Homo sapiens: one gene and its partners. The protein of the gene in region 3 interacts with the protein of the main gene of each other region in a biochemical or structural test. Each region holds a gene or a part of one and is shown on either strand. Other genes may lie near its edges.

Region 1 (7,226 bases), on a different chromosome or scaffold from region 3:
CAGGCGCAAACTCCAAGCGCTTCACTTGCACCCGGGACCAAACCCCAATCCCAGTGGCTGGCTCCCTGAGGCCGCCCCGCTCCGTCCCGCCCCGCTGACAGCGGCTGGGCTGGAGAAGGCTCTATACGGACACACCTCTGGGGACGGGGAACCCACTGCTCCCAGCTAAAGCAACCCTGTTTCCTGGCCCGCCTCAGACAGGGCTGCAGGCCTTGTTTGAGCCCCTTTCAGGGCACCTGGCCTTGGATTGTCTGTGGCTTTGCCTGGTCCGCTGTGACTTCCTTTCTACTTGAGCCTTGCTAAGGCAGACTCTACTCCCTCACTCGTAAGCAGCCAGGCGTCCAGCAGGTCCTCCAACGTCGATCTTGGCCCTAAGACGTCCAGTCTGGGCACGGAGTTGTTGAGATCCGGCAGGAAGTCCCTGCTCCAGGGCCAAAGGCCCCACCCGGGCTCCCCCGGATGTCCCCGCACCCCCCTCTATTCTCCCAAAAGAAAGAAGCTGCTTCCCACTTTGGAAACGTTTATTCTGAGCACCGGGAAGGGGGGCGGCGGCGGGCGCCTCACTGGGTGTTGAGCTTCTTAGTGTACTCCTCGAGAGCGCTCAGGAAGCTGACCTTGAAGCTCTCCAGCACGGGCAGCAGGCCTTGGCGGAGGTCCTCGAGCGCGGGCTTGGCCTTCTCGCTGAGCGTGCTCAGATGCTCGGTGGCCTTGGCGTGGTACTCGGCCAGTCTGGCGCCGCCGTTCTCCTTGAGAGCCTCAAGGCGCGCGGCCAAGCGCTGGCGCAGCTCGTCGCTGTAGGGGGCCAGATGCGTGCGCAGCGCGTCCACATGGGCGCGCGCGCGGTCGCGCATCTCCTCGCCCAGTGGGCTCAGCTTCTCTTGCAGCTCGTGCAGCTTCTGGCGCGCGCCCTCTTGGAGCTCTGCGCGCAGCGGCTCCACCTTCTGGCGGTAGAGCTCCATCTCCTCCTGCCACTTCTTCTGGAAGTCGTCCAGGTAGGGCTGCACCTTGGCCTTCACCTCCTCCAGATCCTTGCTCATCTCCTGCCTCAGGCCCTCTGTCTCCTTTTCCAGGTTATCCCAGAACTCCTGGGTCACAGGGCCGAGCTGTTCGCGCAGCTTGCTGAAGGTGGAGGTCACGCTGTCCCAGTTGTCAAGGAGCTTTAGGCTGGAGGGTGAGACAGAAGGGTTGAGGGCTGGCCTCCCAGCGCCCCAGCCTATCAGGGGTGAGCCCTGGGTGACACCTGTCCGCGGAGGTGCAGTGGCCTAGCATTTCCAGTACACTCTCAACCAACACCCCTGCCCCGCCAGGCCATGCCCCGTTGTGCAGCTGGACCGAGGCACAGAGAGGAGCTAAAAAGGAGACAGAGCTGGGACTAGTGCCCAGTTACGTTGGTCTCCAAAGTGGGCCCTTGAAGGACCTCGCTTCTATGCCTCCAGCGCATTCTCCTCTCCGAAGACAGCCCACAGTCTTGCTGGGCAGGAGCAGAGGAGGTGGTGAAGAAGGGAAAGGGGCTTGCTACACTTGCAGGCACAATGTGGCTCTGTGATCACGCATCGGGCAGCCCTGGTCTGTCCTTTGCAGGGGACATGGGCTGTGACCCTGCCTGGAGATCCCATTCCAGTTTCTCCATCCAGACCATCTGTGGGGCCCAGCTCATCAGATATTAGGTGAGGACTCGGCCAGTCTGGCTTCAACATCATCCCACAGGCCTCTGCCCCCTACCCCTGCCCTCAACCCCAGGCTGGGTCCTTACTTTAGCTGTTTTCCCAAGGCGGAGCCTTCAAACTGGGACACATAGTCTCTGCCGCTGTCTTTGAGCACATCCACGTACACAGTGGCCAGGTCCTTCACTCGATCCCAGGGGCTCTGGGGGGGTTCATCTTGCTGCCAGAAATGCCGAGCCTGGCTCCCTGAGGGTGGGAGGGGAGACCCAGATCAGGCCAGCTGTGGGCTGAGATCTGAGCCGAAAGGCCAAGCTTGGAGGTGGGGGAGAGGGGGCCAGTGAGAAACCTGCTGCCTCTGCCCAGGAGGGTGGGCCACGGGGATTTAGGGAGAAAGCCCCCCGATGGTTGGCTCCCTAGGTTAGGGGACACCTACCCGTCAGGAAGAGCACGGCCAAGGTCAGCACCGCAGCTTTCATCCTGAAGGGCCGTGGGGGACCTGGAGGAGAAGAAGGGCCTGGCTGAGTGGGGTGCCTTCAGCATGCAGAAGCCCCGTGCTCCCCCACTCATTGCAGCCAGGTGAGGAGAAGGGCACAGAGCGGGAGAAGACCTCAGGTACCCAGAGGCCCGGCCTGGGGCAAGGCCTGAACCTTGAGCTGGGGAGCCAGAGTGACCGGGGCAGGCAGCAGGACGCACCTCCTTCTCGCAGTCTCTAAGCAGCCAGCTCTTGCAGGGCCTATTTATGTCTGCAGCCAGGGTCTGGGCTGGGAGGCTGATAAGCCCAGCCCCGGCCCTGTTGCTGCTCACTGGTCCTGGCAATGTGGAACTTAAGAGTTCAAGGATCAGCTCTGTCCCTGGGGCTGGGCAAATAGAGTGGGCAAACAGCAAGCTGCGGGGGCTGCAGGGCAGGGGTCAAGGGTTCAGTGGGGGCGGGAGGGGAGTGTCTGCAGGCTTGCAGGTCTCCCGGGTGGGGTCGGGGTTCCCTGCACTCATCCCCTTCCCCTCCATGGGAGTGTGTGGGCAGTTGCCATTGTCCATTGTGTTGGCAGAGGAGGGGAGGGGAGGGACGCTGGGACTCCTCCACCAAGGAGACTGCCTCCCCCACCACCAGCATTCCAGGGAGACTACTTCACTCCCCTCCCCCTTCCCCCGCCCTGTCCTCCCACCAGTGCTCTTCTTTAGTCCCCAGCAGGTCCTCCAGGCCTCTCTCCAAGCCTCCCAAACTGGTAAACCTGGGGAGAGGGGAGAGCCCTCCGTGGCTCCCAGACTGAGGTTTCGGAGACCTCTTGCATTTCAAAACACTCCAGAGATCAATTCGGAGCTGCCAACTTTTAATTTTGTCATGTAAAGATATTGTCCGCCTCCAAAAAACCCTCACCATCTACAGTGACCATCACTTCAAAAAGGAAAGGCTTTAACAAAAAAGGGCATAATCTCAGAATTACATTACAGAATTGAAGCCCCTTAGATTGAAGACGTCTCCCTTTGCATTGTTCACACTTATATTTGATCACGCACAGGTGTGACTGGATCTCAGCCCTTGGGAAGCCCTGGTGTGGGGAGAAGACCTCTGGGCAAAGGAAGTGGCAGGAGACCTGCTTTCTCATTTCACTTGGCCTCCATCTTGCTGGAGGAAGATCGTGGGCAAGTTATATAATCTCTCTGAGCCTCGGTTTTCTATCTGCAAAATGGGGCAAGAATGGTCAGGGTTGTTGGAGGCCCCTGAGACAGCCTGTGAATGTAAAGTGCTGTGTGTCCGTTGGTGTTTGCAGCACCATCTTGTCAGGTTTCTCCTGGAAGGCCCAGACCTCCCCCAGCAGGTTACTGATAGGACCTGAGTCCTAGAGCCTGTGATGCAGGCTGAGAGGAACTGTGACATCACTCCAGCCTCTCCCCATGCCACCATCTCACAGATGAAGAGACTGAAGAGCACAGAGGGACTTTGCCCAGAGGCTGTCATCTCTCAGGGAGTTAGAAGAAAGGCTGGACCTAGAACCCAGTCTCTGGACTTGGGATGCAGGGCAGAAATGTACCCTGTACCATCACTCCAGGAAACTCCCTAACACTAGAAACCAGGCTGACATCTCTGTTTACCAGATCAGGGAGTGGTCGGCCTCATGCCTTTCACTTCAGAGAAGATTCTGGAGCCAGAAAACCTCAAATCTAAGGGTCAGGCAGGTTCAAATCCAGCTGCCTGACCCTGGATGAGTTATGATACATCACCTCCCCACACATCAGTTTCTGATTGAAGATAATGATAGAATATGCCATCGCCCTGAGTTATGGCAGGGGTTACTGTGTGGCAAGCAGAATAACGCTCCCCAAAGATGTCCACAGCCTCATCCCTGGAACCTGTGGCTTTGCTACCTTCCATGGCAAAAAAAGATTTTGCTAGTGTGATTAAGGACCTGGAGATGGGGTGGTTGGCCTGGATTCTCCAGGTGGGCCCATTGTCATCACAGGGGTCCTTAATTATACAAGAGGGAGGCAGTGGCCTCAGAGTCAGAGAAAGAGATGTGAGGATGGCAGTGGAGATCAGACTCGTGACTGCTGGAAGGGGGCCATGAGCTGAGGGACATGAGCAACCCTTCCCTAGAAGCTGGAGAAGGCAAAGGATTTTTCCCTGCAGCCTCCAGGAGCACAGCTCTGCTGCCACCATGATTTTAGCCCAGTATGACCCATTTTGGACTTCTGTCCTCCATAACTGTAAGATAATAAATTTGTATCGTTTTAAGCATGAACTTTGAACATATATGCAAAACTGTTAGAAAGGTACCTAGCACTTAGTAAACAGTAACTATTCTGTTTTCTAGAATCCCAGTTTCTGGTAATGTATTCCCTTATTCCCACTACACTTGCTTTATCAGATCTGAGACCTCAGCTTCTGCAGCAGGCATGAAGGCAGCAGTCCCACATCTCTCTGCTTGTCCTTGACTTGCAGTTGCTGAGATATGGAACATCTTTTCTAGGACTGAAGTGGCCCCAGATGTCTATGGGACTGTGTAGACAGGGAGGTGGCCTTGGTGAGCCATCAGCCTGGGCTGCCTACTTGACCATCCCAGCTGTCTGTAGCTTTAGAAAGTGGGAAGGTGGCTGGTCCCCTGCTGGGACAGCTCACAGGTGTCTCGGGCCAAGAGAGCGTCTTTTCTTTTGGGGGGTAGAGTTTGTCCCAGTCAGCACATGGGGGAATCTCAGAAGCTTACTGGTTGGACTCCAAGATACTTGCCAGTGTTTCACCCTTCTCTTTGGTTTGTTACTAAAATGATTGTTATGGCTAAACCTAGTATTTAACATTTGCGCAGTTCTTTGTGGCCAAAGCACTTTCACAACTTAGAATATCCCTATAAGGCTGGAGGCCAGATTTTACCCTTGTGATTTTTGCCTGTGGGAAAACTGCAGCTCACAGCTGCCCTGCATCCTTCAGCGGTTACTATTTAGCGCTGGCAGGGGTGGGAATCGGGAGGCCTGGCTTCTAGTTCTTTGAGGGTGGCCTTGCACCCTTGCGGAGCCTGCAGCCTTTGCAGTCTGATCAGGGACTTCTCAGTTTCCTGGCTCAGGGACTGCGAGGCATCAGGATAGGGGGTGCTGTTGAACAGCATCTTACCAAGCAGGCAGTTTCCTTTTCTAAATATACTTATTCACCAGGGTGGCTACTCCATTTTATTGCAAGGTATTTGGCTTAAACTAGTCTAAGCCCCCTTTACTAATATTTTGGAAAGGAAGGAGGTCTTTCTGGACAGAGCTGATGGAAAAATACATAACAACAACAACGACAATAACAAACTGGGTTGATGACACACTCAGACTCAGGGTCCAGCCAGGCATTGTTCAAGGCACTCAGTGGCCACGGGTTGGACTGTTTGGTGGCTGCGGGGCCCACAGTGTAGGCCCCTGTTTCCACCCATTTCTTTCCCTCGTCTTGGGAGTCTCCAGAGCGACTGCTCCTGAACAGGGTTACCAAGTCCTGGCCCTGGATGCCCTGACATGTGTAGGAGTGTTGGCGGTGACCGCAAGAGTGGATTTTGCACAGAAAGATTAGCAACTCCTTTCACAATTTATGTCCAAACATACTGGTCCATCTGTATCGGGAGGACTCTGTCCCCTGCTAGGTCTGGCACATAACAGACACCTGCCAAACATCTGCTCAGTGAATGGCACTGGCACCCTAGAGGGAGGGTCACCAGCCTGGTCATAGGGAGGAGTGGGTCCTGGGAGGGGAGGCAGTCTCATACCAGCCCCTGCTCAGAACGTTTCTTCTGGGAGCACGTGGTATGAGCCAGAATGAGAGTTAGGGAGGGGAGGTGGTGACTGAGCAGGGGAGACAGGACCCCCACCCCCAGTAGTTCCTACTTTTGGCAATTTTGCTGCAGCTTTTGTGATAGAGCCCCAAGTTAGACCCTTGGGTGGGGCACCGTAGCCAGCTATGCAAGATTCTCTCCTGCCCTCCTGCTTGGAAAAGACTAAGGCCAGGACAGAGCTCATCTTTGATCAGCAGGAGGGAAGCACAGTAGCCCTCTGAGTTCTTGATCTTTGCAGTTGGGGTGGGGTGGGGGCTGGCACAAAGTCAGAAAGAAAACTGTGTAGAGCACGGTTTTCTGTCAACATGGCTCCTGTTTTCTGGAGCTAAGCTCTCCAGTCTGTATCCAGGAGCCAGTGCCCTGCTTCCTACAAAAGCTCACCCTACCTCTGGTCCAAAGGCACCCTGGCTGATTTTAGGAGGGAGTGGCACCTATTGCAACAGGTGCTACAATTTGCTGGAAGGCATCTGGGTATTATCACTGTTTGATTCTAGAGACTCACCTAGTCTTGCATGACAGCGTATACAGACTCAGAGGAGTTTTAGAAGGCCCTTCTTTTTTTTTTTTTTTTTTTTGAGACGGAGTCTCGCTCTGTCGCCCAGGCTGGAGTGCAGTGGCGGGATCTCGGCTCACTGCAAGCTCCGCCTCCCGGGTTCACGCCATTCTCCTGCCTCAGCCTCCCAAGTAGCTGGGACTACAGGCGCCCGCCACTACGCCCGGCTAATTTTTTGTATTTTTAGTAGAGACGGGGTTTCACCGTTTTAGCCGGGATGGTCTCGATCTCCTGACCTCGTGATCCACCCGCCTCGGCCTCCCAAAGTGCTGGGATTACAGGCGTGAGCCACCGCGCCCGGCCAGAAGGCCCTTCTTGAGAAGGCTCTTTTCTTCTCTAATCTAAATGGCCCTACAGCAACTTTCTAGCCGCCCTCATGGACTTGAAATCTTTCTTTTCTCTTTGCAGGAGTGCAGTGGTGCGATCACAGCTCACTGCAGCCTCAAACTCCTAGGCTCACATGATCCTTCAGCCTCAGCCTCCTGAGCAGCTGGGACTACAGGCATGTGCCACCAAGCCTGGTTATTTTTTGTAGAGGTGGGGGTCTTGCTATGTTGCCCAGGTTGGACTCCAACTCCTGGGTTTACCTAATTCTCCTGCCTCAGCCTCCTGAGCAGCTGGGATTACAGGCGCACGCCACCATGCCCAGCTTGGAAGGCTTTCTAAATTCCCTCCTCTCATTCTTCCTTCTGTGAACTCAGATGGTCTTTCCAG
Region 2 (7,903 bases), on a different chromosome or scaffold from region 3:
CTCTTTGATCACTGAGTACATCTCTGTAGATATATATTTCCTTCACTGCAGATTTTGCCCAAGATACTTCGTCAAAGACAAAGCCAGTACACCCTCTAATAGGGTGAATATGGTTATGCCACCTACTGAGCTTGTTTTTGATACTAGTTAATATGTAACCAGATGAAATTGTCATTATCGTCACTGTCAGGACTATGGGAAGCTTAAGTGTTCTCTTTTCAAGGACAATGTGCGCTAACTGTACAATTGGTACAATTAAATAAGTTATATTCAGTTCCTGGGAAGCACTATAGCAATACAAGGAGAAAATTTGATTCTATTTATTTTTGTTAAGGCCCACCTACCTCCTAATCCTAATTTCTCTCATTTCCCAAATATTCCTTGTTTGTTCTTACTGTTATGTGTTTTCCTGTATTTTGCTCTTCTACTTTCTTTTCCATGGACTATCTTTTTCCCTTCCTTTTTTTCGCTCTACCCCTTTACCTCAGCTTTCTAGCAGTATTTGCTAAATACTTCAAAACTGTATAGAACTGGTTCAAATTGTGTGCTCCCTTTTCTGTCAAGAACTTGCTACTCAGGTAACCCAATTGGTGATTTTTCCTGGAAACACTGATGGATGCTGTTCCTATAGCGAAACCCAGAACAGAGATGAAATAGATGTCATCCTCAGCCATTAGCATTCAAACTATAAAAATTAATTTACACTGGTATAGTAAGGATCAGAATGTCAAAGCTGTGTTACACCTAGCATCTTGTATGAAACTACCCCATTAAGGTGAGACCACAGATATTATTGCCCCACTATTGGCATGAAAGCTGAGGCTCAGAGCAGTTAACTGAGTTACCCAGGACCACACAGCTAAGTTAGAAGTAGGGCTCAGGTGTCCTGGCAACTAACTGGTCCAGTTATTTTTTCTCTCAAGCTCGTTTTCCCTCTCCTAAAGAATAGGAGGCTCTGTCGTGGTGAAAGGCGATTTTAGTAATACTTTCCTTTTTATCTGTGATTATAATGAATGCGGCATCTCTCCCATTAAGGATCATTCCTCCACCCACATTCTTAATACATCTGCTGCATGCATCCTTCAGAGACCTCCCTCTGGGATCATCCCTTCTCACTCCAAAAAGCTCAACTTCTCCCCTGTCATTTGTACCTCCCACTCAGCATTTTTAGAAGCAATATTTCATTCAAACTTATTCAAGTTTATTTCCACCTAAAGAAATATTCCTTTCACCCTGGCATCTCCGTCAGGTACTGCTCTGTTGTTTTTCTCCCCTTCAGACAAACTGCCAAACTGGCTCTAGTTCCTCACATTCCCCATCACCCTCAGCAAGCTTCTGCCCCACACCGGCACTGAAACAGCTGAATCCCAATGTCCTTGTCCTTAAACCCAGCAGAAAAAAAAAATCAATCAATTATTTGATTTCACAGCGGCACTTGACATGGGTAGCCAGGAATTTATCAATGACAACCTTTACAGATCATCTTTGTAATTTATCATGAGGCATCAAATGAATGCTATTAACATTAATCCCTCCTATTTTAAGTCATTAATCCAAGTAAATGCTCACTTATTTCTAGCGTCTTAGAAACCATTTAAATTATGTTACATTATGAATCAATACATTATAAAATTATACCATCATTTGTAATAATTTTTTAAAATGTTGTGTGCTATTAACATTGATGCCTTGGTATAAAGTCATGATCATTCTGGTCTAGTAGCAATCTTCTATTGACTATTCTCTTACTAAAGCGGTCCCTTCCGTGGGACTCAGAGACCTCACACTCTCCTGCCTGTGTTTCTTCCTCTCTAATTGGCCCTTCTTGCTCCACTTGGGTGCTCCTGCCCATTGCCTAGACAAGAGCATTCCCTGTAACTCTGTCTTGGGCTCTTTTTCTCTTTTCATCAACATCTTCTACGTGGGTATTATCATCCATTTCCATGGCATCAGCTTGCCCAATAAACTGATAAATCCATAGTCTCTATAAGTACAGCAGATCTCATCAAGCTAGTGGCATTCAGACTGCTTTAACTTTAACCAAAAATAAGGGATTTTGTACATGTTCAATAAGCAGTTCCCACTGTGACACTGTAATCACATTTTCACAATTGTGACCTAGGACACTTAGAGTAAAGGATACAGATGATTGAGACAGAAATAGTGACAAAGAAAAATAAGGTTAGGATATAGATTTTAATGCTGTAACAGACCTCAAAATACAATGGCTTAACTAAGAGAATGCATTTCTCTGTCACATAAAGGTCCCAACTGGCGTAGACTTTTGATGACTCAAGGGCTCAGGCTGTGCCTGGTTTGTGGTTCTGCCTTCCTTAACACATGGCTTCCATCTGATGAGCTACAGCAGTACCTATCACTAGTCAGCATGTCCACATTCCAGCCTGGGCAAGGAAGAAAGGGGAAGCGCAGAACTGTACCCTTCCTTTTTTAAGTCATGAACTGAAAGTTGCATGTATCACTTCCACTTGCCCTCCAGTCACCAGAACTTAGTCATATGCCATACCCAGCTTCAAGGGAGTGGGTTAAAAACATAGAAGTCAACTAGGCAGTCTGCACCCAGCAAAGGATCGGGAGTTCTATTATTAAAGCAGAATTGGAGAAGTGGTAACAGGAAACAACCACCAGCCTCTGCTGCATGTATATGAAACAGATGTTTCCCAAATCACTATTCTCACTTATTCTGTCTGATACACTGTATTTTTTATTATATTCTCTTTCATTTTTTAAAATCCTGGTCATGACTCACAGGGCATGATGTTACAACCCACTTAGATGCTAACACCATAATCTGAAAAATATTACCTATATTATGTCTAATATTGGCCACTTGAAGTATGGCTAGCCTAAATTGATCTATGTTGTAAGTATAAAATTCACACCAGCTTGTGAAAACAAATTATGAAAAAAAAGTCTTTAAGATATCATTAACAATTTTATATTGGCTAAATGTTGAAATGATCATATTTTGGATATATTGGATTAAATAAAATACACTATTAAAATTAATTTAATGTTTCTCTTTATGTGGTTACTAGAAAATTTAAAATTTAAAATTACACAGGGCGATCACATTCTATTTCTAGTAGACCACACTGCTGTAAGCTCAAGATTCAAATGTCAAACTCCTGTGAATATTAATACGTGAATATCCCACAAGCACTTACTCCATCTTCCCAACCCTCAGCCCTTCTGTCCTCCTTCTGCTCCCACCAATCTGTGTTTCTTCTGTTTCACTCACCCAGCTAAAGGCAACACAATTCACTCCGTGACGAGCCAGGAAAATGGAAAGACACATTTTCCTTTATTCCTCACATTGATATATTCACTGAGCACTATAATTACCTCTTAAATATGATATAAATCTGCAAGCTCTTTTCAATACCACCACAAATTCCATAGTTCAAAATGCCATCAGCTTTCACCTATATTATTACACCAGCTCCCATCTGGTCTTCCTGCATCCTGGATCACCTCTTTCTAGCTGCCCTTTCAAATTTCAATAAGAGCAAGCTTTCCAGGAAACAAACCTGAAGTCAATCCACTGAGTACTCCTCTGAATACCTTAATATTGTTGACAAATTCCTTTCTGATTTGAAGTATCAGAAAGGAATATTTCCTCCATACCAAATAGTTTTCATTTCATGCATGTGCCGTGATTCTTCTCCCTCCTTTGCATCTGTCATTCGTTATGCTTAGAAAGCTCTTTTCATCTCTTTGTTCTTCGAGACAACCACTACTCATACTTCAGAGCTTAATTTACATTTTGCTTTCCCTCAAAATTTTTTTAAAAGGTTCCAGGTCTGGGTTATGTGCTCTCTTATGTGCTCCCAGAGCATCCTGAACTTCTGCAATAATATGTTTGGCTACTGTATTTTATACAGTAGTTTTATATTGTATTTTATACTGTATTTTATACAGTAGGTGTTATATTGTATTTTATACAGTAGTTGTTTTTCTGTCTGTTTTTGCCCCAACAAGAATGTAAAATCTTTAAGTGCCTGTTTTCATACTTATTTGACCACCCTATCTCTAGAATCTTGCATGATGTCTAGCCCTAGTAGGATCAAAAAATACTTACAAAGCAACTGAATAGCTACATGAATAGATGGATGAATAAATGCATGGGTGGATGGATGGATTAATGAAATCATTTATATGACTTAAAGTTTGCAGAGGAGTATCATATTTGGAAGGCAGTAAGGAAGTCTGTGTAGTCGATGGTAAAGGCAATTGGGAAGTTTGTTAGGCACAATAGGTCAAAATTTGTTTTTGAAGTCCTGTTACTTCACGTTTCTTTGTTTCACTTTCTTAAAACAGGAAACTCTTTTCTATGATCATTCTTCCAGGGCCTGGCTCTTCATCTGCAACCCAGTAATATCCCTAATGTCAAAAAGCTACTGGTTTAATTCGTGCCATTTTCAAAGAGGACTACTGAATTCTGATGTGGCTTCAAACATTTAGGTTAGGCATATCTAATGGAGAACTTGCAGCCACACTGACTTGTAGTGAAATATCTATTTTGAGCCTGCCCAGTGTTGCTTAAATTGTAGTTTTCCTTGCCAGCTATTCATACAAGAGATGTGAGAAGCACCATAAAAGGCGTTGTGAGGAGTTGTGGGGGAGTGAGGGAGAGAAGAGGTTGAAAAGCTTATTAGCTGCTGTACGGTAAAAGTGAGCTCTTACGGGAATGGGAATGTAGTTTTAGCCCTCCAGGGATTCTATTTAGCCCGCCAGGAATTAACCTTGACTATAAATAGGCCATCAATGACCTTTCCAGAGAATGTTCAGAGACCTCAACTTTGTTTAGAGATCTTGTGTGGGTGGAACTTCCTGTTTGCACACAGAGCAGCATAAAGCCCAGTTGCTTTGGGAAGTGTTTGGGACCAGATGGATTGTAGGGAGTAGGGTACAATACAGTCTGTTCTCCTCCAGCTCCTTCTTTCTGCAACATGGGGAAGAACAAACTCCTTCATCCAAGTCTGGTTCTTCTCCTCTTGGTCCTCCTGCCCACAGACGCCTCAGTCTCTGGAAAACCGTGAGTTCCACACAGAGAGCGTGAAGCATGAACCTAGAGTCCTTCATTTATTGCAGATTTTTCTTTATATCATTCCTTTTTCTTTCCTATGATACTGTCATCTTCTTATCTCTAAGATTCCTTCCAGATTTTACAAATCTAGTTTACTCATTACTTGCTTACTTTTAATCATTCTTCCCCAACTCTCTGAAGCTCTAATATGCAAAGCCTTCCTAAGGGGTGTCAGAAATTTTTAGCTTTTTAAAAGAATAAATTTTAGATATTCACATTCATATTGATCTACTTGAGACCATGCTATTTATCTTTTCTTATTTCCTCTTTCTCAAGGGTCCATTTTCTATTTTATAAAAATAAAGACAATTCTCTCCCACAACCAAACATGGAACAATGCCCTGGAGTATAAAAATCTATAGAGTGCCAAATAAAGGAACAATTTGAAATACTGGTGTTGATATTGAAAAAGCAAGGGACTCTAATGTCAGAAGAGAAATCCTTTTGCAGATGAGGTGGTGATGAATTCTTTGTTTCAACACAACTGAAGGAGGAACTGAAGGAAATACCAGCTGATGAGTGATGAGAAGGGATTCTTGATAATAGAGTACTAGGTGATTTTTGGCATGTAATGCAGAAGTTGCAAGAAGTGGTAACAATGATGCAATTGTTTTACCTGCCATTTATTTACTTTTATGTGAGCCATTCTTCTTAGCACTTATAGCTACACAAAACAAAAATAGTAACAGAATTAATGTTGTTTAATTCTTGCAATCCATGGATGCATAAATTCACTGGGGGAAAAAACAGCTCATCATTCTCATTAAAGATGTGCTTCAAAAGTATTTTAATTTTATATCTAATATGTATGAATCATACTTTGTATTTATTTTGTTTTGATCAGTTATATACAAGTATTTTTGAACATAGCTCAGTCAGAAGGAAATGTTTAATATTTATAAATTTATGGTTACATTCTATTTAAAAGAGGAGTTAAAGTTAAATTTACCTACCCACATATGTTACATATATATGTATTTATGTATATGTATTCATATATGTATATATGTGAACATAAGTATACATACGTATATGTATAGATGCTTGACAATAAAGAAGTAAGAATAATTCACAACATTTTTTGAAATATAAAAATTTAGGATAAATTTCTGTATGGTAATTGGCATGGAAATTCAAATTCAAAAAGGAAAAAAGAAGAGAAAGATATTAAATATCAGACCATTAAAAGAATTTTTTAATGTACTTTTAAATAGTGATAGTAGGTATCTTATACTACAGTGTTTATTATTCATGAGAAAATTGTAAAAGTAATCTAAGTATTAATTTAAAATATCATCAAAAATAATATCTTTTGCTATTACTTAAAATCATGATAAAAATATGTTTACTTGAAAATATGTAAGGAGTGCACAGAGTCCAAAAATTATTTTAGGAGTTCTGTGAGCAAAAATGTATAAAAACTACAGGGTTGATCTTAAATTACATGTCAGGGTACTGAGAAAGTTTCTGTACTGCACATGAGTTACCAAGGTCTAAAGTCAATCACCAGAGGACCATTTTTGGATGGAGCCATTGTCTAATCATGAGCTGAAAGGCAAATATTTAAAATGCAAACATCCATGGTTAGGTAACACTCTTAAGACCTTATTAGCTGCTTACCACAACTGAGACTGTGAAGTAATGGCTCACTTTCTTTGAGGCTCAGATTCCATATCTGTGGAGTGGAAGCGAGTGCTTACCATACAATTTTCACAGGGCTGCTGAATGTGTGTATGTATGTATGTGTGTATATATATTTTAATGAAAATTCTATAATTTGATTAGTTTTTGTAATGTCCGCATGACTGAGAGCTTGCTTACTTTTTACAGCAACTTGAAGGTAAAAATAGATTTTACAACATGAACAAATGTAACTACATATTTTTATTTGAATTCAGATGTTCACAAATTGTTCCTTAAAGTGAAGCATGCCTACAAGTTTTAATCTGTTTAAGACCTACCTCAAGTAAAATGTTCACTGCCATGGCATGTGAGGGAAAAGGGAAATAATTCTTATGCATGGCCTTCAACGGCCAAATTTCATGCTCATCAGTACATCTTCTCTTGGTGTAGAACTGATGATGATAATTATGATGATGGAAAAAAGTGCTGTTGATAGCAATGCCTCTCTTCCTTCACTTTCCTCTAACTGAACCGTCTCATTCCCAGGCAGTATATGGTTCTGGTCCCCTCCCTGCTCCACACTGAGACCACTGAGAAGGGCTGTGTCCTTCTGAGCTACCTGAATGAGACAGTGACTGTAAGTGCTTCCTTGGAGTCTGTCAGGGGAAACAGGAGCCTCTTCACTGACCTGGAGGCGGAGAATGACGTACTCCACTGTGTCGCCTTCGCTGTGAGTGTGGCTGTTTGACTTAATATACTTGGTTCTTTTAGTCAGGGTCATAGGGATCTAGTATTCTGTCAGATGAGGCTTTGGGAGGTTGGTAAGAACTGCAGGAAGGAATCCAAATGTAGCAAACTAAGTATAGAAATTAAGGAGCAATGCATGACTCTCCAGCCATGGGAGACAAATATTTACAGGCAAACTAAAAGTCAGCTTAATAATCACATAGAAACCCTATTAGCCAGAAAGGAAAAAAAAAAAAAGAAAATGTGACTTCTTAAAATTAAGATGGAAAAAATATTAATAAAGCAAACTAGACCAAGGCTCAACATGAGCCACCCGTGGTGGACTGACAGGAACACATCACTCCACACTACTTCTAAGAGTAAAAATTGTAGAAATTACCCTGAGCAAAGGTGTAATATCTCTTCAGAGTTGTCCACATGTGAGAT
Region 3 (7,267 bases):
AGCAAACCCTTGCCCATCCTCTGCGATCTGGCTCCGAGGACTCCTCCACAGTAGTCTCATTGCCTCAGGCCATGGAGGTGGCAGCAATGAGGTTGAGAAGACCTTGCTGAGCCATGCAGGGCAGGGCCGGGCCACGCCCCGTTTCTGGGCCAGGCCCAGCCTGACATCAGGTCCCCAGCTGCCGAGGAGGCTGCTCTTCGCCAACCGCCCTCTGTGCCGCAGGTTCTTTCTGATGTGCTACCTGTTCGTGAACCTCGCCTGTGCGGTGCAGACACTCCTGAGGACCCCCAACTGGCGGCCCCGGTTCAAGTACTATCACTGGTGAGCCATGCCTCTGACACGGGAGACCCTGGGGAGGCCAGGAGCCTCATTCTGGGTGAGGCTTGGGTTTCCTGGGTAGGGAGCTCTTGAAACACTGTGGGGAGGGAGATTATAGGGCTGCGGGGGACTGGACCTAGGTCTTACACCCAGTGACCTGACCACCCACCTGGGACCTCCCACCCGGGACCTGACAGGGCTACCAGGGCATGGGCCAGGCTGTGGCCAGGGGTCCTCCTGGTCCTGCCCTGACTCTGCCCTCCCCTCTCGTCCAGGGCGCTGTCCTTCCTGGGCATGAGTCTCTGCCTGGCCCTTATGTTTGTCTCCTCCTGGTACTATGCCCTGGTGGCCATGCTCATCGCCGGCATGATCTACAAATACATCGAGTACCAAGGGTGAGTGAGCACTGCCACCTGGCCTCTGCCAGCTGAGGGGGCCCGGCCGAGCAGGCAGGGTGGTCTGGCATTGGGGTGGGCAGGGAGCTGGGCCACCGTGGGTGCCAGGACTGGGGACTGTAACTCAGGACCCCTGGGTGGTCTTGAGGGGCAGAACCCCTCCACCTCGCATCCACATAGACAGAACCCCCTGGGCGGCACCAGGGGCTCACCAGCTGTGGTGGAATCTGCAGGGCTGAGAAGGAGTGGGGTGACGGGATCCGAGGCCTGTCCCTGAGCGCTGCCCGCTACGCGCTGTTGCGGCTGGAGGAGGGGCCTCCTCACACCAAGAACTGGCGGTGAGTTCCCGCCAGACCCTGGCCAGGGCGCAGAGGTTCTTAGGGGTCGCTGTCGGGGTCAGAGGGTCGAGAGGTGCCGGCTCCCCATCCTGGGGCTGCCCGGGGCACCCTCCTGGGCCATGCTACCCAAACCTGCAGGGACCACGACCCGAGAAGGGAAGAAGAGGAGGGGCTCCCTAGAACGGCCGGCCCTGGTCTCAGGCTCCCCCCACCCGGCCACTGCAGGCCGCAGCTGCTGGTGCTGCTGAAGCTGGACGAGGACCTCCACGTGAAGTACCCGCGGCTCCTCACCTTCGCCTCCCAGCTCAAGGCTGGCAAGGGCCTGACCATTGTTGGTTCTGTCATCCAGGGGAGCTTCTTGGAGAGCTATGGCGAGGCTCAGGCCGCCGAGCAGGTACTTGCTTTGGGGAGGGAGAGCTGAGCCAGACTACAGGGGTCTGGACTGCAGCTGGCACGGAGGGGAGGGCCCAGTCTTGGCCAGGGTGGCCAGCCAGGCAGCCAGCACTGCTGCCACCTGAGAGCTGGCACAAGGGGGAGCCAGCAGTCCCATCTTGAAAACTTGGCCTCTGGGTAGGCAGCTTGTTGCCCCCAGGCCCTCCTCCACCCAAAAGTCGTTTTGTTCCCGAGGGGCCTTGGGAGGGAGCCCAGAGGCAGGAAGCTGATGGCCTCCCATTGGCCCTGGGTGTGTTCCCCACAGACCATCAAGAACATGATGGAAATTGAGAAGGTGAAGGGCTTCTGCCAGGTGGTGGTGGCCAGCAAGGTGCGGGAGGGGCTGGCCCACCTCATCCAGTCCTGTGGCCTGGGAGGCATGCGGCATAACTCCGTGGTGCTGGGCTGGCCCTACGGCTGGCGACAGAGCGAGGACCCCCGTGCCTGGAAGACCTTCATTGGTGTGTGAAGGCCTGGGGCCTGGTGGGCAGGGGTGAAGTGAGGTGGCAGTGGGCGGAGGGCCACAGACTGGTGGTCAGCCGTGCTCCTCCTCCCCAGACACCGTGCGCTGCACTACGGCTGCCCACCTGGCCCTGCTCGTGCCCAAGAACATCGCCTTCTACCCCAGCAACCACGAGCGCTACCTGGAGGGCCACATAGACGTGTGGTGGATCGTGCACGATGGTGGCATGCTCATGCTTCTGCCCTTCCTGCTGCGCCAGCATAAGGTAGACCAGGGGGTGGGTGCAGATGAGAGGGGCTAGGCCCTTGGAGGAGCAGCTGTGACCAAACCGCCCACCTGGTCCCTTGCCTCAGGTCTGGAGGAAGTGCCGGATGCGCATCTTCACAGTGGCCCAGATGGATGACAACAGCATCCAGATGAAGAAGGACCTGGCTGTCTTTCTGTACCATCTGCGCCTTGAGGCCGAGGTGGAGGTGGTGGAGATGGTGAGCCCTCTGCCCTGCCCTGGCCCCGTGGATACCATGTCCCGTGCAGCTGGGTCCTCACGGCCAACCCTGTCCCCAGCATAACAGTGACATCTCTGCATACACCTACGAGCGGACGCTGATGATGGAGCAGCGGTCGCAGATGCTGCGGCAGATGAGACTGACCAAGACTGAGCGGGAGCGAGAAGTCAGTGCCCTTTGTGGTTCACGCCAGGGCGGGTGGCAGGGTCAGGCCTTTGGAGACCGCATCGGTGGGTGCGGAGGAATCAGAATGACTCACCGCAGCCCTACCCAAGCTAGTGCTCATTTCCCGGAGGCAAGGTGGTCACATTGGGCCAGACAGGCCCCATCCCCCTTTTCCTATGGGACCAAGGCTATCTCCTGCAATTGTCCTCAGGCCCAGCTGGTCAAGGATCGGCACTCGGCCCTGCGGCTGGAGAGCCTGTACTCGGACGAGGAAGATGAGTCTGCAGTGGGGGCTGACAAGATCCAGATGACGTGGACCAGGGACAAGTACATGACTGAGACCTGGGACCCCAGCCATGCCCCTGACAATTTCCGGGAGCTGGTGCACATTAAGCCGTGAGTGCAGCAAAAACAGCCCCAGCGGCACTGGAATCTAGGGGTGGAGGTGGGGTGGGGCAGACAAGTAGTGTTAGATGGGCCAGGGGTGGGGACCCTCCTTGCAGGATGGCTCATGGCGACCTGTGACTGGCTACACTACGTGTAGGGACCAATCCAATGTGCGGCGCATGCACACTGCTGTGAAGCTCAATGAAGTCATTGTCACGCGCTCCCACGACGCCCGCCTGGTTCTCCTAAACATGCCTGGCCCACCCAGGAACAGTGAGGGCGACGAGAACTGTATCCCTTTGTGGAGAGGCAGGCAGTTGGGAGGTGGATAGCATGGGAGGTCAAGCCAGCGGCTTCTCTCCTGGGCACCCCTGGGTGGGCATGGCCCAGGTGGCCCGGGTTGCCCGTTGATTCTGTTGTTGCCTCCTTGACTTGAGGCCCTGCAGACATGGAGTTCCTCGAGGTGCTGACCGAGGGCCTTGAGCGGGTGCTGTTGGTGCGCGGTGGTGGCCGTGAAGTCATCACCATCTACTCCTGAGCCCAGTGTCATCTTGTGGCCTGGAGTCGAGGTCTTGGCCAGGACATAACAAGCTGTGGTCTGGGGTAACAGCCTCTTCCCAGCACCCACCTGCCAGCCCTGCTTGCCTGGCCCTGTCCTGGACCCAGCTTTGCTAGGTCTCCTTGGAAACCAGGCCTGGGCCTCAAAATGGAGATGGATCCCAGGTCTTGTGGGACCCTGGGATGTTTGGGGACTTTACTATCTAGCACCCCAGTAGGCCTGTCCTGGCCAGAGAAGACTGGTAGGGGCCGAGTGGGGTTTGAAGGCAGCCGGCCCGGCCCAGCCCAGGAGCGCTATTTATTGCATATTTATTGTTTGGATGTCACCATCAGAGACGAAGGGAAGGGTAGCCAGGGAGGGAGTCCAGCCCAGCTGCCTGCAGGAAGATCTGGCTCAGTCTACTATGGGCAGGGCCCCCCACCAAGCTGAGCCGAATGGAGACAGCTGAGCTGAGGCCTGACTTTTTCAATAAAACATTGTGTAGTTCTGGGCCTCCTGCTGCCCCGGCTCTGTTTCCCCTGGCGCCAAGAGAAGAAGGCGGAACTGAACCCAGGCCCAGAGCCGGCTCCCTGAGGCTGTGCCCCTTTCCGGCAATCTCTGGCCACAACCCCCACTGGCCAGGCCGTCCCTCCCACTGGCCCTAGGGCCCCTCCCACTCCCACACCAGATAAGGACAGCCCAGTGCCGCTTTCTCTGGCAGTAGGCACCAGGGCTGGAATGGGGCCGCCCGGCTCCCCATGGCAGTGGGTGACGCTGCTGCTGGGGCTGCTGCTCCCTCCTGCCGCCCCCTTCTGGCTCCTCAATGTGCTCTTCCCCCCGCACACCACGCCCAAGGCTGAGCTCAGTAACCACACACGGCCCGTCATCCTCGGTAAGCCCCCACCAGGCCCCTGATGCACCACGCCAGACCCTGGGGAGCCTGGGCCCCAGCCCCTGGCAGCTGACCTGGCCAAAGCCCTTCTGCCCTGCATAAGCCCCGACATAAGTACCTGCCCTGGTGTGGGGAGGGGCCAAAAGCTTGTCCCTTAGAGGAATGACGTCCCTTCTCCCACCACACTGTGACTCTCAGTTGTCTAACCCAGGGGGGGCGGAGTGGGGGACGGGGTGTGCCTGAGGTCTTGGCTGGGGCATCACAAGCTGTGGTCAGTCACAGCCACACCAGACTCTGGGCCAAGCCCCACCACTCCTTCCTTGGCCCCCACCCACCAAGGACAAGATGCCCAGCCCAGGATCGGTGAGCAGGAGAGGCCCATCCATGCCCGGCCCCTATTAGGCCCAGCCCCCATGCCCCCAGACCTATCTGTTCCCACCTTGGACTTTGGCAATAAAGGAGCGCCAGACTGGGTGTTTGCTCTGCAGAGGCAGGGGTCAGCGGCCTTGGCCTCAGCACCTCAGCGCCTTCCCTTCCTCAGGGAAGCCTGGGCTTTGGCTACTGGGGGGACAGCAGGGAGAGGGGGTGTAAGCAGGGGAGGGTAAGTGTGCTTTGTACCTGGGGGTTGAGGGTATGGGAGGTGGGGGGTGGGTCTGGTCACTGCAGCATCTGGGGTGACGGGGGTAAGGGTCACGGGGGGAATCCAGAGTCCAGAGTGAGGGCTGCTGCTCACAGTGCCCGGCTGCCTGGGGAATCAGCTAGAAGCCAAGCTGGACAAACCAGATGTGGTGAACTGGATGTGCTACCGCAAGACAGAGGACTTCTTCACCATCTGGCTGGATCTCAACATGTTCCTACCCCTTGGGGTAGACTGCTGGATCGATAACACCAGGTACAGCCATGTGCTCCACCCTAGCCCCAACACGCTGCCCCTTGGCTACTGGCTGCTGAGTGGCACCCCCGCCCCGCAGGGTTGTCTACAACCGGAGCTCTGGGCTCGTGTCCAACGCCCCTGGTGTCCAGATCCGCGTCCCTGGCTTTGGCAAGACCTACTCTGTGGAGTACCTGGACAGCAGCAAGCTGGCAGGTTTGTGTCAGAGGGCAGGGCTGGGGCTCCAGGCCTGGGTGCTGGCCCACAGCAGGCATGGCCCAAGCCCCCGGTGCTGCTGGTCCCCCCACAGGGTACCTGCACACACTGGTGCAGAACCTGGTCAACAATGGCTACGTGCGGGACGAGACTGTGCGCGCCGCCCCCTATGACTGGCGGCTGGAGCCCGGTGAGTGTCTCTGCGGATGACCGGCTTGGGGTGGGGCAGGTGCCCCAGACCCCAGCTGCCCTGACCCCTTCCACCCGCTGCAGGCCAGCAGGAGGAGTACTACCGCAAGCTCGCAGGGCTGGTGGAGGAGATGCACGCTGCCTATGGGAAGCCTGTCTTCCTCATTGGCCACAGCCTCGGCTGTCTACACTTGCTCTATTTCCTGCTGCGCCAGCCCCAGGCCTGGAAGGACCGCTTTATTGATGGCTTCATCTCTCTTGGGGCTCCCTGGGGTGGCTCCATCAAGCCCATGCTGGTCTTGGCCTCAGGTGAGAAGGCCTCGAACACTTAGGTCCAGCGATGGGTGAGACCAAGCTGATCCTGGGCCTGCCTTCATTGCGGCTCCTGCTCACAGTGGCCTCTAGGGGTGCTATCTACCACTCCTGGGCTGGCATGCTTGCTGTCACTGGCCCCCAGAGCAGTGACCCTGGCCTGAGCAATTAGGGTGGCTCCTTCCAGAGTCTGTGTCAGTGATGGCAAAGGGGCAGTGAACACAGAAAGTGAATCCCAGCTATCTGCTCCCAGGGTTTGTTCTTGTAGCCCCAGAGCCTGCCTGCCCAGCCCTTGCCTGCCTTCCACTTGCTCGCAGGAGTGCCTTTGCCCAGGGATGTGCTTCACTGAGGATGGATCTGCCAGAGCTAGGGCCAGACCCCCCGAGGCCCCACCTGCTCTTCCCTAGGGAGTGGCACCAGGGCCCAGCACTGACACAGCTACCACCTACTCCCCACCCCCTGTACCCTGGGAGCTGGTCTGGAGAGAGAAACACAGTCTGGACAAGAGAAACGCTCATCAGACACCACCAATAAACATCAAACAGACACCATCTTGTTTCCCCCTTTCTGGAGCACAACTCTGTGGCCCCCATTGCTGCATAAGCCACACAAGGAGCAGAAAGACACATGCCCGAGGGAGGACAGCCAGCACCGCCCCCACCATCCCCACACATCCTGGGCCTCACCCACCATCCCCACACACCCTGGTCCTCAGGAAGCCCCGCCTACTTTTTTTTTTCTTTTTCAGACAGGGTCATTCTGTCGCCCAGGCTGGAGTGCAGTGGCGTGATCATAGCCGCAGTCTCAATCTCCCTGGCCCAAGCAATCCTCCTGCCTCAGCCTCCTGGTTAGCTGAGACTATAGGCACACAACACCACACCTAATTTATTTTTGTTTTTTAGTAGAGATGAGGTCTTGCTATGTTGCCCAGGCTGGTCTCAAACTCTTCACCTTAAGTGATCTTCCTGCCTCAGCCTCCCGAAGTGCTGGGATTACAGGCGTGAGCTACTGTGCTGGGCCTTTTAAAAAATGTTTATTTGTTTATTTATGTATTTTGAGATGGAGTCTCGCTCTGTTTCCCAGGCTGGAGTGCAGTAGTGCAATCTCCACTCACTGCAACCTCCATCTCCCCAGTTCAAGTGATTCTTCTGCCTCAGCCTCCCTAGTAGCTAGGATCACAGGCATGTGCCACCACGCCTGGCTAATTTTTATATTTTTAGTAGAGATTAGGTTTCCCCATGTTGG

What was found. The genes of interacting proteins can lie anywhere in the genome.
Region 1: the proteins of LCAT (region 3) and APOA1 form a complex in vitro, tested with the Homo sapiens proteins (6 studies listed by BioGRID and IntAct, with this or other methods).
Region 2: the proteins of LCAT (region 3) and A2M form a complex in vitro, tested with the Homo sapiens proteins (one study listed by BioGRID).

What each region holds. Positions count from the first base shown.
Region 1 is NC_000011.10:116,835,248-116,842,473, forward strand, and holds APOA1 (apolipoprotein A-I isoform 1 preproprotein), read right to left. Parts: upstream 2,376-7,226; 5' UTR 2,358-2,375; exon of another isoform or gene 2,272-2,357; intron 2,161-2,271; 5' UTR 2,141-2,160; coding exon 2,098-2,140; intron 1,911-2,097; coding exon 1,754-1,910; intron 1,165-1,753; coding exon 561-1,164; 3' UTR 504-560; downstream 1-503. UniProt on the Homo sapiens protein: Participates in the reverse transport of cholesterol from tissues to the liver for excretion by promoting cholesterol efflux from tissues and by acting as a cofactor for the lecithin cholesterol acyltransferase (LCAT).
Region 2 is NC_000012.12:9,112,917-9,120,819, reverse strand, and holds the start of A2M (alpha-2-macroglobulin isoform a precursor), read left to right. Parts: upstream 1-4,900; 5' UTR 4,901-4,970; coding exon 4,971-5,056; intron 5,057-7,276; coding exon 7,277-7,460; intron 7,461-7,903. UniProt on the Homo sapiens protein: Is able to inhibit all four classes of proteinases by a unique 'trapping' mechanism. This protein has a peptide stretch, called the 'bait region' which contains specific cleavage sites for different proteinases.
Region 3 is NC_000016.10:67,941,115-67,948,381, reverse strand, and holds the start of LCAT (phosphatidylcholine-sterol acyltransferase precursor), read left to right. Parts: upstream 1-4,261; 5' UTR 4,262-4,280; coding exon 4,281-4,434; exon of another isoform or gene 4,435-4,908; intron 4,909-5,169; coding exon 5,170-5,326; intron 5,327-5,405; coding exon 5,406-5,521; intron 5,522-5,615; coding exon 5,616-5,711; intron 5,712-5,794; coding exon 5,795-6,019; intron 6,020-7,267. Other genes in the region: SLC12A4 (solute carrier family 12 member 4), read left to right, coding at 223-321, 594-713, 947-1,051, 1,277-1,445, 1,749-1,944, 2,042-2,211, 2,300-2,431, 2,511-2,618 and 3 more. UniProt on the Homo sapiens protein: Central enzyme in the extracellular metabolism of plasma lipoproteins.